Linked DNA regions of Homo sapiens. The protein of the gene in region 1 purifies or fractionates together with the protein of each later gene. This does not show direct contact. Each region holds a gene or a part of one and is shown on either strand. Other genes may lie near its edges. The genes, in order: CGN and PPP1R9A.

The links.
Region 2: the proteins of CGN (region 1) and PPP1R9A purify together in Homo sapiens (affinity purification with mass spectrometry; 2 studies listed by BioGRID and IntAct, with this or other methods). This does not show direct contact.

The regions. Positions count from the first base shown.
Region 1 is NC_000001.11:151,520,634-151,528,591, reverse strand, and holds part of CGN (cingulin), read right to left. Parts: coding exon 7,901-7,958; intron 5,159-7,900; coding exon 5,031-5,158; intron 4,367-5,030; coding exon 4,234-4,366; intron 3,919-4,233; coding exon 3,706-3,918; intron 2,951-3,705; coding exon 2,802-2,950; intron 1,618-2,801; coding exon 1,485-1,617; intron 762-1,484; exon of another isoform or gene 654-761; intron 1-653. UniProt on the Homo sapiens protein: Probably plays a role in the formation and regulation of the tight junction (TJ) paracellular permeability barrier.
Region 2 is NC_000007.14:95,246,095-95,254,052, reverse strand, and holds part of PPP1R9A (neurabin-1), read right to left. Parts: intron 7,499-7,958; coding exon of another isoform or gene 7,442-7,498; exon of another isoform or gene 7,071-7,441; intron 7,054-7,070; coding exon of another isoform or gene 6,966-7,053; intron 6,581-6,965; coding exon 6,527-6,580; intron 4,028-6,526; coding exon 3,798-4,027; intron 2,292-3,797; coding exon 2,195-2,291; intron 2,095-2,194; coding exon 1,923-2,094; intron 1-1,922. UniProt on the Homo sapiens protein: Binds to actin filaments (F-actin) and shows cross-linking activity. Binds along the sides of the F-actin. May be involved in neurite formation. Inhibits protein phosphatase 1-alpha activity.

The DNA.
Region 1 (7,958 bases):
TACAAAAATTAGCCGGGCGTGGTGGTGTGTGCCTGTAATCCCAGCTGCTTGGGAAGCTGAGGCAGGAGAATGGCTTGAACCAGAAGGCAGAGGTTGCAGTGAGCCGAGATTGTGCCACTGCACTCCAGCTTGGGTAGCAGAGTAAGACTCCATCTCAAAAAGAAAAAAAAAACCCATTGGATTGTACACAAAGATGACTTTTATAGCATGTAAAATATAACTCCATAAAAAAAAAAATACCATGAAGGGAGAGTACATGAAGGTATGGCTAGTAAGGCTGGTTGTTTAAAAAAAATACAGTGTGAGGCTGGGTGCGGTGGCTCACGCCTGTAATCCCGGCACTTTGGGAGGCCAAGGAGGGCGGATCACAAGGTCAGGAGATCAAGACCAACCTGGTTAACACGGTGAAACCATGTTTCACGGTGAAACACTGAGTACGTGTATTTTTTTTGTAAAAATACAAAAAAAATTAGCCGGGCGTGGTGGTGGGCGCCTGTAGTCCCAGCAACTCGGGAGGCTGAGGCAGGAGAACGGCGTGAACCCAGGAGGCGGAGCTTGCAGTGAGCCGAGATCACGCCACTGCATTCCACCCTGGGTGACAGAGTGAGACTCCGTCTCAAAAAAAAAAAAAAAAAAAAAAATATATATATATATATAGTGTGGCCATGGGATCTCCAACTGCATGCAAGAGCAACCTGGAGAGACTTTGACAGAACAGGTCAGCACAATCCCTGCAGCTGCCACTTGTCTTTCGTGTGTGTGTGTGTGTGTGTGTGTGTGTGTATAAAACCAAAATGTGTGACACAATAAATGCTGGCACAGCTCTGATTTCTTTTAAAAAGAAAATTAAAATAGGAGTTCTGGTTCTAATTATTAGCTATTAGCTACTTCTGAAATTCAGAAAGTACCATAATTAGGCTAAAGGGTTATATAATATGTAGTGAATCTTCAATGTAATACCATATACTCTGCTATTTTTCTTTTGCTAATTAGTTTTGTTACATTAGTAACCAGGCCATGCCAACACAAGTATTCCAGTCCATGTGATGATATTTCTCAATGTAAATTAATAAACTGAAATTCTAATGGTAAACATTTTTTCATAAATGTAGTTAGAGACCCCTCTGAAAGACAAAGCAGCTTTTGCCATGCTGACCAAATTAGATTTCTGAGCCTGCAAAAATCATCCTGGAGTTTCACAAATCCACCTAAATGCTGCTACCCATGACGTCTCTTGGGAGTCGGCCAGCAGCCTCTGGCTATACCCCAACCTGGGTTCTGAGAGCACTTTCCATTAGAAACCTCTATGCTCAATGAGGAGACTGGTGCTGCTGTGCTGGAAAGAGATCAAGCTGAGCAGGCAGGATGAGGCCTGGAAACCAAGCACACAGGAGATAGCCCCACTAGCAAGAAGGCCCTCATGGAGAGGTAAGGCAGGTGTTCATCACCCCTACCTACCATTCTGCCCCCCAATTCCCAAATACCTTCTTGAGCACCTCAACCTGGCGAGTATCTCCAGCACTAGCTCGGGCCTGCTCTAATTCCCTCTGCAAGACCTCTATCTTCTCTCCAAGCTCCTCTTCCATCTCCTCCTTCTCCATTCGCAGCTGCAGGAGTCTGAGCCAGGCAAGGTGAAATAAAGGGGAAAGGGAACAGAGTAAGGCCACATGCCTGGGGGAGGTTAGCATGACAATAAAAGCCACCTCTCTGGAGGCCAACACGCTGGGCACCAACTCTCAAGAGGAAGGAAGGTGAACGTGGAAAAGAGCAGTTTGAGAAATGGGAGAGTAAGAGCATACCATAGATAGAAAGGAAGTGGGCCAGGCATGGTGGCTCATGCCTGTAATCCCAGCAATTTGGGAGGCCAAGGCAGATGGATCACTTGAGCCCAGGAGTTCAAGACCAGCCTGGGCAACATAATGAAACCCCGTCTCTACAAAAAATACAAAAATTAGCCAAGTGTGGTGGTGCATGCCTATAGTCCCACCTATTCGGGAGGCTGAGGTGGGAGGATGGCTTGAGCCCAGGAGGTGGAGGTTGCAGTGAGCCCAGACTGTGCCACTGCACTCCAGCCTGGGCAACAGAGCAAGACCCTGTCTCAAAAAAAAGAAGAAAGGGACTGGGTGCAGTGGCTCACGCCTGTAATCCCAGCGTTTTGGGGGGCCGAGGTGGGAGGATCACGAAGTCAGGAGTTCAAGACCAGCCTGGCCAATATGGTGAAACCCCGTCTCTACTAAAAATACAAAAAACCCAGGCCTAGTGGCAGGCGCCTATAATCCCAGCTACTCGGGAGGCTGAGGCAGGAGAATCGCTTGAACCCAGGAGGCGGAGGCTGCAGTGAGCCAAGACTGCACCACTGCACTCTAGCCTGGGCAACAGAGTGTGACTCCATCTCAAAAAAAAAAAAAAAGGAGAAAGGGGGCCAGGCGCAGCGGCTCACACCCGTAATCCCAGTGCTTTGGGAGGCAAGGTGGACAGATCACCTGAGGTCAGGAGTTCGAGACTGGCCTGGCCAACATGGTAAAACCTCATCTCTACTAAAAATACAAAAATTAGCTGGGCGTAGTGGCATGCGCCTGTAATCCCAGCTACTTGGGAGGCTGAGGCAGGAGAATCTGTTCAACTCAGGAGGCAGAGGTTGCAGTGAGCCAAGATCGTGCCATGACACTCCAGCCTGGGAAACAAGAGCGAAACTCTGTCCCAAAAAATAAATTAAAATTAAAATTAAAATTAAAAATTAAAAAAAAGAAAGGAAGTGGCATATGAATCATGGGTATTTCTGAGAGGGCCAATGTCCTTACTCCTGCTTGGTGGCTCTAAGATCCTCCTTGTTCTTCTGGAACATACTCTGCCAATGCCCTGTCTCCTCTGAAGTCTCCTCCAGCTCCCTCTGCAGCCCTCGCACAAGGGCTGACATCTTCTGCCTCTCGGCCTCCAGCACTGCATGGTCCTAGAGAAGGGGAGAGTTGGACACCAGAAGGCTCAGAGGGAAGAGGTCACTTCAAATCAAAGTGTGAGTGTGTACAAGGAAAGGCTTAGACCCAGAGGGCACCATGCCAGGTGCACCCCCTGACACTCTTGTGGTACCTGGTACAATGCTAGCAGAGATTCTCTCCTCAAGTCACAGTCCACCCCTCTATCATCTACAGGAAACCTCCCCAGTTATTTCCCCTTGGGACTTTTTATTTTTAGGGGGACAGAGTCTCGCTGTGTTGCCCAGGGTGAAGTGCAATGGCATGATCTCGGCTCACTGCAACCTCCGCTTCCTTGGTTCAAGCGATTCTCCTGCCTTAGCCTCCCAAGTAGCTAGGACTACAAGTACGCATCACTACACCCAGCTAAGTTTTTGTATTTTTGGCAGAGATGGGGTTTCTCCATGTTACCCAGGCTGGTCTCTAACTTCCTGAGCTCAAGCAGTCCACCCGCCTCAGCCTCCCAAAGTGCTGGGATTACATGCATGAGCTACCGCACCCAGTCCCCCTTGGGACTTTTGTCACACAACCTCAAGGTACTTCTGGCCTGTACTCCCTCCCTCTGCCCCTATAGTTTTCCTGCCCAAGGTTTTCAGCAGATCTCACTGTGTCCTTTAGGAGGAGAGGGGGAGTTCCCAGTTGCAACCATGAAAAGTCCAAAAGTCCAAGATCCCAAGGCAGCCTTGTTCTCCAGCAGTGCCCTCCTCTCTCAGACCCTGCTCTTGTCACATGCCTGGGTTGCATCTTGCATGCTCCTGCGGAGCTGCTCTGTGTCTCGCTGGTACTGCTGCCGGACATGTTCCACCTCCTGGTCACGGGAGGCTACCTCCTCTTTCAGGGCCCCCTTCAGGGCTGTCAACTCCCGCTCCCGCAGCCTCAGCTGCTCCTCTACTCGCTGTTTCCCCTCCAAGACCTCTTCCAGAAGTTCCCGGGTCTCTAACAGGTCCTGGAGAAAATAAAGGAAGAAGTACAGGGGTGACCATATTAGAATCCATCTGTTTATCAATTCACTGAGTCAAAAAATATTTATCGTATTAGGCACAGTACCAGGTGCTCTAGTACCAGTACTGGAGCCCAGAATGATAGGTTTCCTTTATCCTAACTCTAGTCCCAACACACCATTGAATCTACCTGAAAGCACACTGAGTACCTGTAATCAGCCACCCACTCCTCATACTTTGGGGAAACCATGGATGAGCAGACTTGAGGATGCTCCAACTGAGAAAAAGCAGAGGCTGGGGCATATGACCCCAGACCCTACCTTCAGTAACACCTCCTTAGCAGGCTCAGGACCCTGGACATGTTTCAGCTTGTTCTGCAGCTCCATCACCTGGGTCTCCAGCCCATGTCGTAAATCTTCACCCTGGTCCAAGAGGCGCTTCATGTTCTGGAGCCTAATAATAGATAACATTATTGCACACTATGTGTCAGGCAGTTCTCTAAACGCATCATATATTTTAATTCATATTTATTAATGCATTTAAACTTCCTTCCTTCAAATCTTGATGAGGCCTCCCCTGATTTTTGCAACCTGCCCCGCTACAACCTGGCCCTCCTGATCTGCCTTACCCTGTTGTATTTACTGCCTTCTCGTGTGTTACAAATTTACTTGCAAAATATGTTTGTTTACTGTCTGTTCCCTCTCAGTAGAAACTAAGCTTCTGGAGAGCGAGCCCTTCATCTATAGGGTTCACTGATGTGTCTTGGGAACCTAGATTAATGCCTGTCACAGCATTCTTGATGAAACATCTGCTGAATGGATGACTGAATCCTTACAATGATCCTGTGAGGTAGGTACTATTATTAAGTCTATTTTATAGCTTAAGAATCTGAGACAGAGGCAAACCCAGGTAGCTTAACTCCAAATCATGCACTACCACCATTATTGATAAAGAAGGTAGAGAGAAAGGCCCTATCCTGTCCTTAAACCAACACTGCCCCTTTCAGCTTCTGGAGATTTCCTTCTGTCTCCTTCAACCCTAGGGGCAAAGAGGGAGTGGCCTCTAAACCTGGCCTAGGCCCCCAAGCAGCCCGAGGTGCGCCACCAGCTGCACTCACTCCTTGTTGCTCTGCTGGGCCTCCCCCTTCCTCCTCTCCAGCAGCTCCTGCAGTCGGCTGCACTCTTCTGTTTTCTCCTCCAGCTGCCGCTCCAGCCCAACTTGGGATGGCTCTAGCTTCTGCCGCTTCTGTAAAAGGGAATGAGAGTACAGCAGGTAGAGGGTAGGGAAAGCCTCTCAGAAAGACTCAGAATAATGGGAATGTCTAACACTCATTGGACACTTGCTGTATGATAGACACTATACTTAGGACCTTATGTGTATTATCCACATCTAATCCTCATAACTAGCCTTGGTACTTGTGATGATGTAAAATATGTTCACAAATTATCTGACATTTCTTTCAAAAGATAAAGCCTAATTCTGTTTGCCTCGAGCACGGGCTTGACTTAGGGGCTTCCTTCTAACAAACAGAAAAAGGAGGACGTGATGAGTAAATTCTGATGTTAGGTCATAAAAAGGCATTGCAGCTTTTCTCTTGGATCCCTCACTCTGGGAAAAAAATAGCTGTTATATTGTGAGGATACTCAAAAGTAGCTCTGTGAGGAAGGCCAAACAGCCAGGAACTGAGGTTTACAACCAACAGCCATTTGATTAAGCTGGGTTTTTATTATTTTTATTGATTTTTTTTTTTTCTTGGTGTTTTGTTTTGAGATGGAGTTTTGCTCTTGCCTAGGCTGGAGTGCAATGGCGAGATCTCAGCTCACCGCAACCTCCACCTCCCGGGTTCAAGCAATTCTCGTGCCTCAGCCTCCTAAGTAGCTGGGATTACAGGCATGCATCACCTCACCTGGCTAATTTTTGTATTATTAGTAGAGACAGGGTTTCTCCATGTTGGTCAGGCTGGTCTCAAACTCCCGACCTCAGGTAATCTGTCCACCTCAGCCTCCCACAGCGCCCGGCCTGGTTTTTTGTTTTTTTTGTTTGTTTGTTTTTTGAGATGGAGTCTCGCTCTGTTGCCCAAGCTGGAGTGCAGTGGCGCAATCTCGGCTCATGGCAACCTCTGCCTCCCAGGTTCAAGCAAGTCTCCCTGCCTCAGCCTCCCAAGCAGCAGGGATTACAGATGCCTGCCACCATGCCCAACTAATTTTTGTATTTTCAGTAGAGACAGGGTTTCACCATGTTGGCCAGGCTGGTCTCAAACTCCTGACCTCAGGTGATCCACCCACCTCAGCCTCCCAAAGGGCTGGGATTATGGGTGTGAGCCATTGCACCCAGCCAATTAAGCTGGTTTTGTCTATCTTATTCATTAAACTGGTTTTGTTTGCTTCATTCACTTATTTATATTTTTTTGAGACAGGGTCTTGCTCTGGCACCCAGGCTGGAGTGCAGCAGTGCAATCACAGCTCACTGCAGTCTTAACCTCCTGGGCTCAAAAAATCCTCCCACTTCAGTCTCCTAAGTAGCTGGAACTACAGGCACATGCCATCACATCTGGCTAATTTTTTGTAGAGGCGGGTTCTCACTATGTTGCCCAGGCTGGTCTCAAACTCCTGGGTTCAAGTGGTCCTCCCACCTTGCCCTCCCAAAGTGCTGGGATTATAGGCGTAAGCCACCATGCCTGGCCCTGAGTAAGCCATTTTAGAAGCAGATCCTCCAATTTACTTCTTTTGGCCACAGCCAGAAGCTGGACTGGAACCTTATAACAGGCTCAGAGCCACAATTACCCTGTTAAGCTGATCCCAGGTTCTTCATCCTCAGACTCTGGGAAATGCTTTTTTTTTGAGAAAGAGTTTCACTCTTGTTGCCCAGGCTGGAGTGCAATGGCAGGATCTCAGCTCACCACAACCTCCACCTCCCGGGTGCAAGTAATTCTCCTGCCTCAGCCTCCCAAGTAGCTGGGATTACAGGCATGTGCCACCATACCAGGCTAATTTTGTATTTTTAGTAGAGACAGGATTTCTCCATGTTGGTCAGGCTGGTCTCAAACTCCCAACCTCAGGTGATCTGCCTGCCTCAGCCTCCCAAAGGATTACAGGTGTGAGCCACTGCGCCCGGCTGGGAAATGTTTGTTTAAAGCTATTGAGTTTTGGGTAATTTGTTACACAGCAATAGTTAATTAATATAGTACTATCATAATCCCCACTTTACAATTTAGGAAACAGAGGCTTAGAACATTTAAAGAACTTGCCCAAGGTCAGTTACACAGCCAACAAGTAACAGAACCAGGATTTGAACCCAGTTAGTTTGGCTCCACAGCCAATCACTTAATCATTACACTACAGTGATTTCCAAAAGACAAGGGAAGTTACAATCCAACATTTATTGAGCACCAACTACACACAAACCAATATGATGAAAGGCAGAAGACATGTTTTTAAAAAGGGTACACTGGCTTTAGAATAAGACTGACCCGGATTTTTTCATTCCTCTCTGCAACTTACTACCATAGGCAATTTACTTAGCCTCTCTGATCTTCAGTTTTCTCATCAGAAAAGGGTCCAGAATAGGTATTCACAGGGTAACTATAATGATTACAGTACCCAGGACAGTACATACTACCAAAATTATACTCAATAAATGATAGCTACTACTATTGCCATTATTATGATAATGATAAAAAAAAATTGAGGCACAGAGAATGTAAGTAATTTTCTTAAGTTTTATATAGCTAGTAAGGGGCAGAGCCAGGATGGGAACTCCCAAAGGGAGTGGAATGGAAGGTAGGTAGATTCCTAATGTGCTCTGCCTCCCTAACCCCCACAGAACCCCAGAAGTCCTTCCTGGAATTAGTACACATTCTTGTCTCTTGTCTCATAAGACACAAACATGCTTGTTCCATTGCTTAGAAGGGTCAGCTCAGCCCATCTCCAGGCCAAGGCTTTTTCCCTGTTTTCCTTCATGCCTCCGGCACCTCTAACCTTTCCTTACCTTCACCTCTTCATCCAGCTTTCGCTGTAGCTCCTCCACTTTTCGGGTAAGCTCACCC
Region 2 (7,958 bases), on another chromosome or scaffold:
TAAGGTTTTGATCCAAATCAGCATGTTAATAGTATAGTGTGTTGATCTTCTGTAGTCATATAATTTAATAAACACCATTAATTATATGTTTGAAAAGATACAGATTTCTAAACTGAAAGAAATGAATAGAAATGAAAAGCTACTAGATACTGCTCATACTTTGAGTATGCCACAGCAGGAATATGTATTTATTATATATAAACTATAATTTTTTAAAAATTAAAATATTCAAAAAGGTAAAAAATTTGGTTTGATTCCTGATGTTTTTCTTTAGATATCAATCTTATAGTGTTCCAGGTATAAAAATTATAATTCCATAAGAGCTCAAATAAATTACTTTTTTGGCTTCAAAGACTAAACCATATAGTTTCAAAACAGGCCTTAAAGTGGTGAAGAAGGAAATACTACTTTTAAAATAATATGCACAGTAATATCAACCCAGAGAAGCTAAATACTCTTCCTGAAGTCACACAGCTCCTCACTTAGTCGTAATGCTAATGCTAAATCCTCCTCTTTCAGCTGCCTAAGAGGCACTATTTATAAATTACATCCTATTTAGGGAAAACCCATTAGAAGGATATAAACCCAGTGAATGGATTCAAATCTCTAGATATCATTTTAATTTTAAATGAAGATTTCTAATCCTTTCCATTTTTAATGGCTAAGAGCTTAGTTCTAAAAGTTCATGATAGGATATAAACACTTGCTTATCAGGAAAACTTCACTGGAGACAGTTTAATATGTGAGAAAGATCACGAAAAAACTAAAAAGCCCATTATAACAGGGTTTTACTGCACGTCAAAGTGTTGCCTCTGAGTTGTCGGTCCTGTCATGACAACCCTGCTGCACCACATTCTTTTATTTTCATTTTCCAGGGACTACTATGTATATATTTAAAAAGATGAAGCCACACATTCCTGTGTATTTATCTTTATAATTATTATGTGTTTTCTAATTTGCAAATATACCACAGATATTAAAACAGTCATTCATGTTCATACACGTGCAATCTAAGAATGTTGTGTGTGTAAGAACATAAGTAATTTATTTATGGTTGGTGTATGAATGAAGATAATCATTTATAATACCAAATGTTTCCAGTGTTTTGGTCTTACTTGGTCTTTGACATGAAAGACCTAAGAAGTATACACAGTACACCATGGTAAAAGCACAAAACTATATGGACTTCGTTAACTACATGAATCTCAAGTGCTGAAAGCAGCAGTCTGCCTTCTGATATTATGAAAAAGATCTTTATTCTAGTGACTTAAACATTCTAAAGCTTGGCTGGGCGCGGTGGCTCATGCCTGTAATCCTAGCACTCTAGGAAGCCAAGGCAGGTGGATCACCTGAGGTCAGGAGTTCGAGACCAGCCTGGCCAACAAGGCAAAAGCCCACCTCTACTAAAAATACAAAAATTAGCCAGACGTGGTAGCACATGCCTATAGTCACAGCTACTGGGGAGGCTGAGGCATGAGAATCGCTTGAACCTGGGAGGCGAAGGTTGTAGTGAGCTGAGATTGCACCACTGTACTCCAGCCTGGATGACAGAGTGAGACTCTCAAAAAAAAAAAAAAAAAAAAAATCTAAACCTTAGTCATTAACACATAAGTAGTGTAGTTCATCCTAGATAGGATGAACTACAATTTGTAAGGCAGTTTATTAAATCTGTCAATTGTATGATGATTTTAAAATAGTATTTGGCTTATCTTTAGTTGTGATTTGTTAATGCTACATATTAAAGTATTTATTTTTGATAAGACGAGAGCTAAAATGATTGACTCCTATTTTGATAAGCCTTTTCTTCTTTCCCATAGTAGGAAGGTATTTCCAACTTTTAAATCTCTGGGTCAGAAAAAGAAAAATAAAAGGCCAAATTACACAGTCATCAAAAATGATTTTTGTGGTTGGGTTAAACAAACCTTGACTTAGGCCATCTTGGCAAGATGTCTGCTTGCCATCCAAGTTCTCCATGGTATCCCCTTTAGAGACTTCACCAAGAGATGTTCTTCTCTCAAAGATGTTGTTATTATTGTTAACTTGAGTCCCATTTTGCTTCAGTAGCCTGAATACCTCAGCTTCCAAATCTCTAATCTAGGAAAAACAAATCCATTTATAAAACTCTAAACTAGCGCTCCCCTCCAAGTACAGCAAAACCATCTTATTATTTAGTGTCTTAGGGAACACAACTTACCCGCACTTGGAGGCCTTGCACTTCCACAAGATGAGCTTTTTCCAAATCTTCTATTTTCTTTCTTTCTGCTTCCTGTCTTTTGATGAAATCAAGCTCTCTTAAGAAGAAAATAATAGTTCTGATTATATCATACACTCAATAAATGAAAGTTCTTATCTGAAACAATAAACTGCATAGTAGGATAAGCAACTGAACAGTTATTTAAATGGACAACATTCAATCAGTTAGAGGAAAAAGTATAGTAATGAAAGAAACTAAAACATCTTTAATGGGTCACAAGGCAAAGAAAAATGATTCGATTCTGCTTACTATAATTTTCTTTCGTAGCTCCTGATTCTAGAACACCCATACATATTTAGATAGGAAAGACTGCACTAATGACCCACATTGGGTAATTTAGTGGAGATAATTACTTGTCAGGTAGAAATAATTCCATTTTTCCAATGTCATAAGCATAGTATAGTAAACTGATGTAACTAGATAAGAGTTCGAAAAAGATAATTGTAAGATTTCTATGAATAACAGTGAAGAGGGGGCTGGGTGGGTCAGAAACATCGAGAGGGGCACTCACTTATAGACCTAAGGATAATATGGGGAGAAGAGAAACAGTTCCATTTTGAAAACCTGGAATAGAATATGCAAATTTAGCAAAATTTACTATAAAATTATTTCATGAAAAAGAGTTTGGCAAATAGTTAAAACAGTGATGTATTGAATTTATAGTCACAGAGAATAATTACTCCCCTTTTAACAAGAAACTTTTGATAGCAAAACTCTTTTAAATATTAAAAACATTCTTCCACATAATAGGAAATAAAAGAAATATGGTTAATCTTACATATATGCTTAGCTTCTGAGGCTTGGCATGGAAGACCAGAAAAGGTACTGGTACTACTTATTTGTTCTAACTAGCCAGAAGTAACTGATGAAAAAAATCTAGTAAAAATCTCCGTGGTCAGTCTCCGTGACATTACACCGAGATCCAAGAGATGGAAGCAAAGGAGCAGTAGCTCAGAAACAGCTGTTGAAAATCAAAAGCAGAATGTGGTAATGGTCTCTCTCCCTGCAGTGAAAGGAGGCCCTCCTGATTCTCTCAACAGCTGAGAAATGCAGAGTGGCAGGGCAGGGGGCCTTGCTAGTCGATATGTGCACTGTCTGTAGTGGGAAATTCTGTAGTTACTGATCTAAGAATAGAGAGGAGCAGCCTGATTCAGGCCCCAGCTGTGGCTTGCGTGCTCCACATCCAATAGTCAGTCATTCTACATGACTTTCCGCTGGGCTTCTTGTTTCTAAATCATAGAGGTGTTTCAAAAAGAATAAAGAAATTCAGATGTTTTAACAGTTATAAACAACGATTAATTATCAAAAATAGCAAAGAGGCCCTGGCAGCCAAAAACTATAAAATATACAAAACATAATCTCATGAAAAAGTGATAGAAGTGACTTCCAAAACTTAATGTGTATTTATGCTGTAACTATGCTCCTGGATAGGAAAGATATCTCTAAGGTCATCTTTTCTGTTCCACTAGATATTACAAAATTATTGGACATAAACCTTCTTTAGACAAACATAACTATTCTTTAGTTATTAGAAGCGGCTTACTTTTGTTGAAAATCCTTGATCAACTTCTTTGCCTTGTTGTATTTCTTTTCCAAGGCCTGATACTGGCTTTGAGTCTCTTTGAGATGCTCATTCACTGTGTGGCATAATGTTTGGGCCTCAATCCAGTAGCTTTCCAACTTCAACATTCTTTCCTTATTCTCTTCTATGTTTTGTTGGAGTTGGGTTTTTTCTAGTTCCCACCTCACTTTCTCATTTTCTGCTGCCTGCAGCTGGAGAAAGCAAACGTCAAGGCAAAGATAATTTGGCCACTTTTGTGGCAAAAATCTCTCATTTTTATAGCATGTTGTAGATCAAGTTCTATTATCATAAACAATCACTGAATCCACTTGAGATGAGAAAAGCAGGTATTATTTTTATAATTCCACAGATGATAAAATGGAAGCCTTGAAAAGTGAAATGATTTGTCCAAGGTCACACATTTGATAAGTGATAAAACATGGATTGGATTCCACCTCACACGATATTTCCATCACACCAGGTGATCTGAAATTCTGTGAGCAGTAAAAGATGTTTCAGAGTTTGATATATCCAACGAATGTCAACATGTTTTGAGAGTTTTTAAAAAATATATAATTATATATAAAAAATTAACTAAAAAGGGAGTGGAGAGGGCCAGGGAGGAGAGAGGAGTTAGAAGCACAGTATGGCTTAATGGTTAAGAGGGGATCTCTGGAGTCATTCAGCATGGATTTGAATCCCAGTTCTGTCATTATTGGCCATTAAACCTTGGACATGTAATTGAAGTTCTCCAAGACTCAATTACATCATCCATACAACAGAATTGTGATATAACACATCAGAATGCTTGAAATAGCTCCTTGGGCATAAGAATCATCTGATAAACATTAACCACTTTCACTCTGCTTTTAACCCTTTTGGTGATCTTATTTCATTCTTTATTTCAAGGAACATGAACATATTCTATAGCTCATTATTTTACATGTAGTGTAATGAATTTCTCAAGCTTTATAAACCTCAATTCCCATAAAAATATAAAAGATAGTGTAAGTAAAAGTATAAATTTTTGCTTGGTTAATTTAATTCCCTCCCACGGAACAGAAAGCCATAACCAGCTTTTTGTTTTTCTGCTTCTAGGGACTCTTAGGAATAGATAGTAAACTAGTCTAATACCCTCATTTCTACAGAAATCCAATACTGATCATTTAGGTGAGGGCTCAAAAGTCATTCCCAATAACTCTCTGGCCTTCAAACTGGTACTTTATCTACTTTATATGCCTTCTTTAAAGTTCAAAAGGATGCAAAGTCATTATAAACTATCAATGTTCAAAATCATATAGCACTTAGCAAAAGTAAACATGTATTTATATACACACACATCTATGTTTTTGCAAATATTTTTAACTAAACACATTTGCAAAACAGTTTACAAAGTTAGAAAGCATCCAAAACAATGTCAAGATTAGGAATTCTATTATCAAAATGAATAATAAAGAATCATAATAAAGTGCTAATCTGTGGATATTACATGCCAATATAATGATGAAAAAATATAAAATGCTAATTTATAGTATTTTCTAAGTTAAATGTCTATAGTCTAATACATAAGCGCCATTAAAACACAATCACAGGGAAAAAGAGATCTTTTTAAAACAACAATTTAAAAAATCTTCAATTCTTTCTATGTCAAGAGACAATGACAATTTAAAACAGGAATAGGTTATTTACTGCATCTTTTATTAAGCAATGTTTTGTATCAAGTTGTTTATTTAGCAACCGCCACTAATTTAAAATTATTATTCACGGAGCTGGACTAACACCGTGAATGATGTATAGTCGTATTTTGACTAAAGAGCTGCAGAGTGAATTAGCTGAGAATAGCATTTAACCAAAATAGCCTTGCTAATTCATCTCCATTTAAAACACACGGAGAAACCAAAACAAGTGTTCAATGTGAACAACAAAAGAGATCATTAGTGGTAGTGGTGGTGGTGATTGGGGGCGGGGGAGGGTAATTATGTTTTAATTTTTAAAAGACCATTGAAACAATAAAGAATATTGCTTTAAAAGTAATTTAAAATATATTTTTAAATCTTTGAAATTGTATATTTGATAAAACTAAACAAAATTGCTAGAATTGTGTCTCATACGAGTGCCTTAAAGTTTGTCAATGAAAATATATAGACTAATAATACATACTCCCTTTTATCAAGACCTTTTCTCCCCCACAAATTTAAATTATGTGAACCAAACAACTAAAAATTTCCAGTAGTACCTGGCACTTAAATTATGCATGTATTAAGTTTATAAGATTTAATTATTAGAAATTAGAAATGGTTTATAAAACATTGATGTGCTATACTAAATTTGTTCCTACAAATGATTAAATCTATTTATAATAAGGTAAGTGAAGAGGAGATATAGTAGCTTTGCTTAAGGAATTAGTAATCAAAACATACTTTGCATACTTGAACCATTAAAAATATTACTTTTTAAGGAAATCTCAGAGGCCACATATGTGCAAATACATAAATATATATATCTAAAATATTGTGTTATTTGCACTGAGGGGGATGTGGGTGTTTGCTCTCACTGGCAGGTTTGTCTACGTACCTGACAGTGAAAATGAATCTATCACATTTGCATTCTTTCAAATATACAGGGACAAAACCTTTAGTCCTAGGATTGGATTTATTCATAGTATCTGAAGTTTAAAAAGTAAAATTCAAACACCATGTTTCGGTGCTTACCTTGGTCTTCAATTTTTGAATCTCTGCTTCTGTAACTGCATGTTTGATTTGCAACTGAAAATTGAAAAGAAAGAAAAAATCTGAACTAAGAAAGTGTATCTATATTTGTAAAGCCTCAGCAGCTACAAGAATGCCTTATTACATAGTAAAAGGCCTAGAAAAGTGCTGCAGTGCAGCAAGTTGTAAATTAAAGTGTCTACTGTGTGAAATGACACTGGGTGCAAACTAATTAAACACAGTTTATGGTCTATACTCCCTAACATCAGATTAGGTTACCAATTTAATTGCTCAGGGACCAAGAGAAGAAAACACTTTTTATTGCCCTCTTTGCAGCTCTTCCTTTATGATTTGAGCGTCAAGGAACTGTTTCCTTGCTAAGTCTAGCTAACTGAACGGCATACACAGGCAAGTGAGCTGATAGTGTGATTTAATTCCAAACCTGGACGTGTGAAGATTTATTCCAAATCTGCAAGAAAGGTGGCGCTATGGTCCTGTGAGTTGCAAGCACATTCTGATCAGCAGCTCCACTGCAAAGGGAGAGAGGAGGAGGACTGCAGTTGCACGGGGAAATCTCTGATACATATTTTTTTCTTTTAATTGCAGGAAAGGTACAGATCCAGATTTCTGTCCTCCAAAAGATCTGCTCCTTTTGAAGACTCAGACCCCCAACAGCTTCTGCCACAGCTTATTAGCAATAAGAGTCACAGTTTACATTTGTTTTGCTTGTCCCTCCCCCCGCTTTGTTTTCTTTGTAAGGGAAGAAGAAGGAACTGAACGAATCATTCGTTTCCTTAGGGGATCAATAAATACTCCCAAATTTAAGAAAAACAACTTATGGGTTCACAATTTCTTGTCTGAAATCCTTGGGGCCAGATGTTTTTGGAAGTCAGCATTCTTCCAACTTCAGAAAAGTAGTTACGATGTATCTTCTACAAATTGCTTATTATCCACAGCAGGGTCTTTGGAGGCACTCTATAGTCAAAAACACATGAATTATTTTTGCCACCAAACATGAATATTCCCACTAAGCGAGGTACATGAAGACTGTAAATAGCATCCTGTTAGGTCAGGTTGTACCACTAAATTAGTTTGACACAAAATTACAAAAAAGACTGGGAGCGTTTTGGATTTAAGACTGTACATGAGGGACCATAAACTTTTACTATTACTGTAATCAAGTAAGGCTAAGAGGTTTTCTTATCAGAAGTGAGTGAGTCTGACAGAAGGACAGAAATGTGGAGTTTTCAGACTAGCAATGTGAACCTGTGGAGACCACAGCACCTCATAAACCTCAGCCCTCTCTTGGGTTTGCAACCTGTATTCCCTTGGGTTTTTACCAAGTTCATGGGGACACATGGGAAGGATGATAAAGGGAAGATGGAAGAACCAAGGACAGGTCTATTCGACCCCCTTGGATGCCTGTGGCTAACTG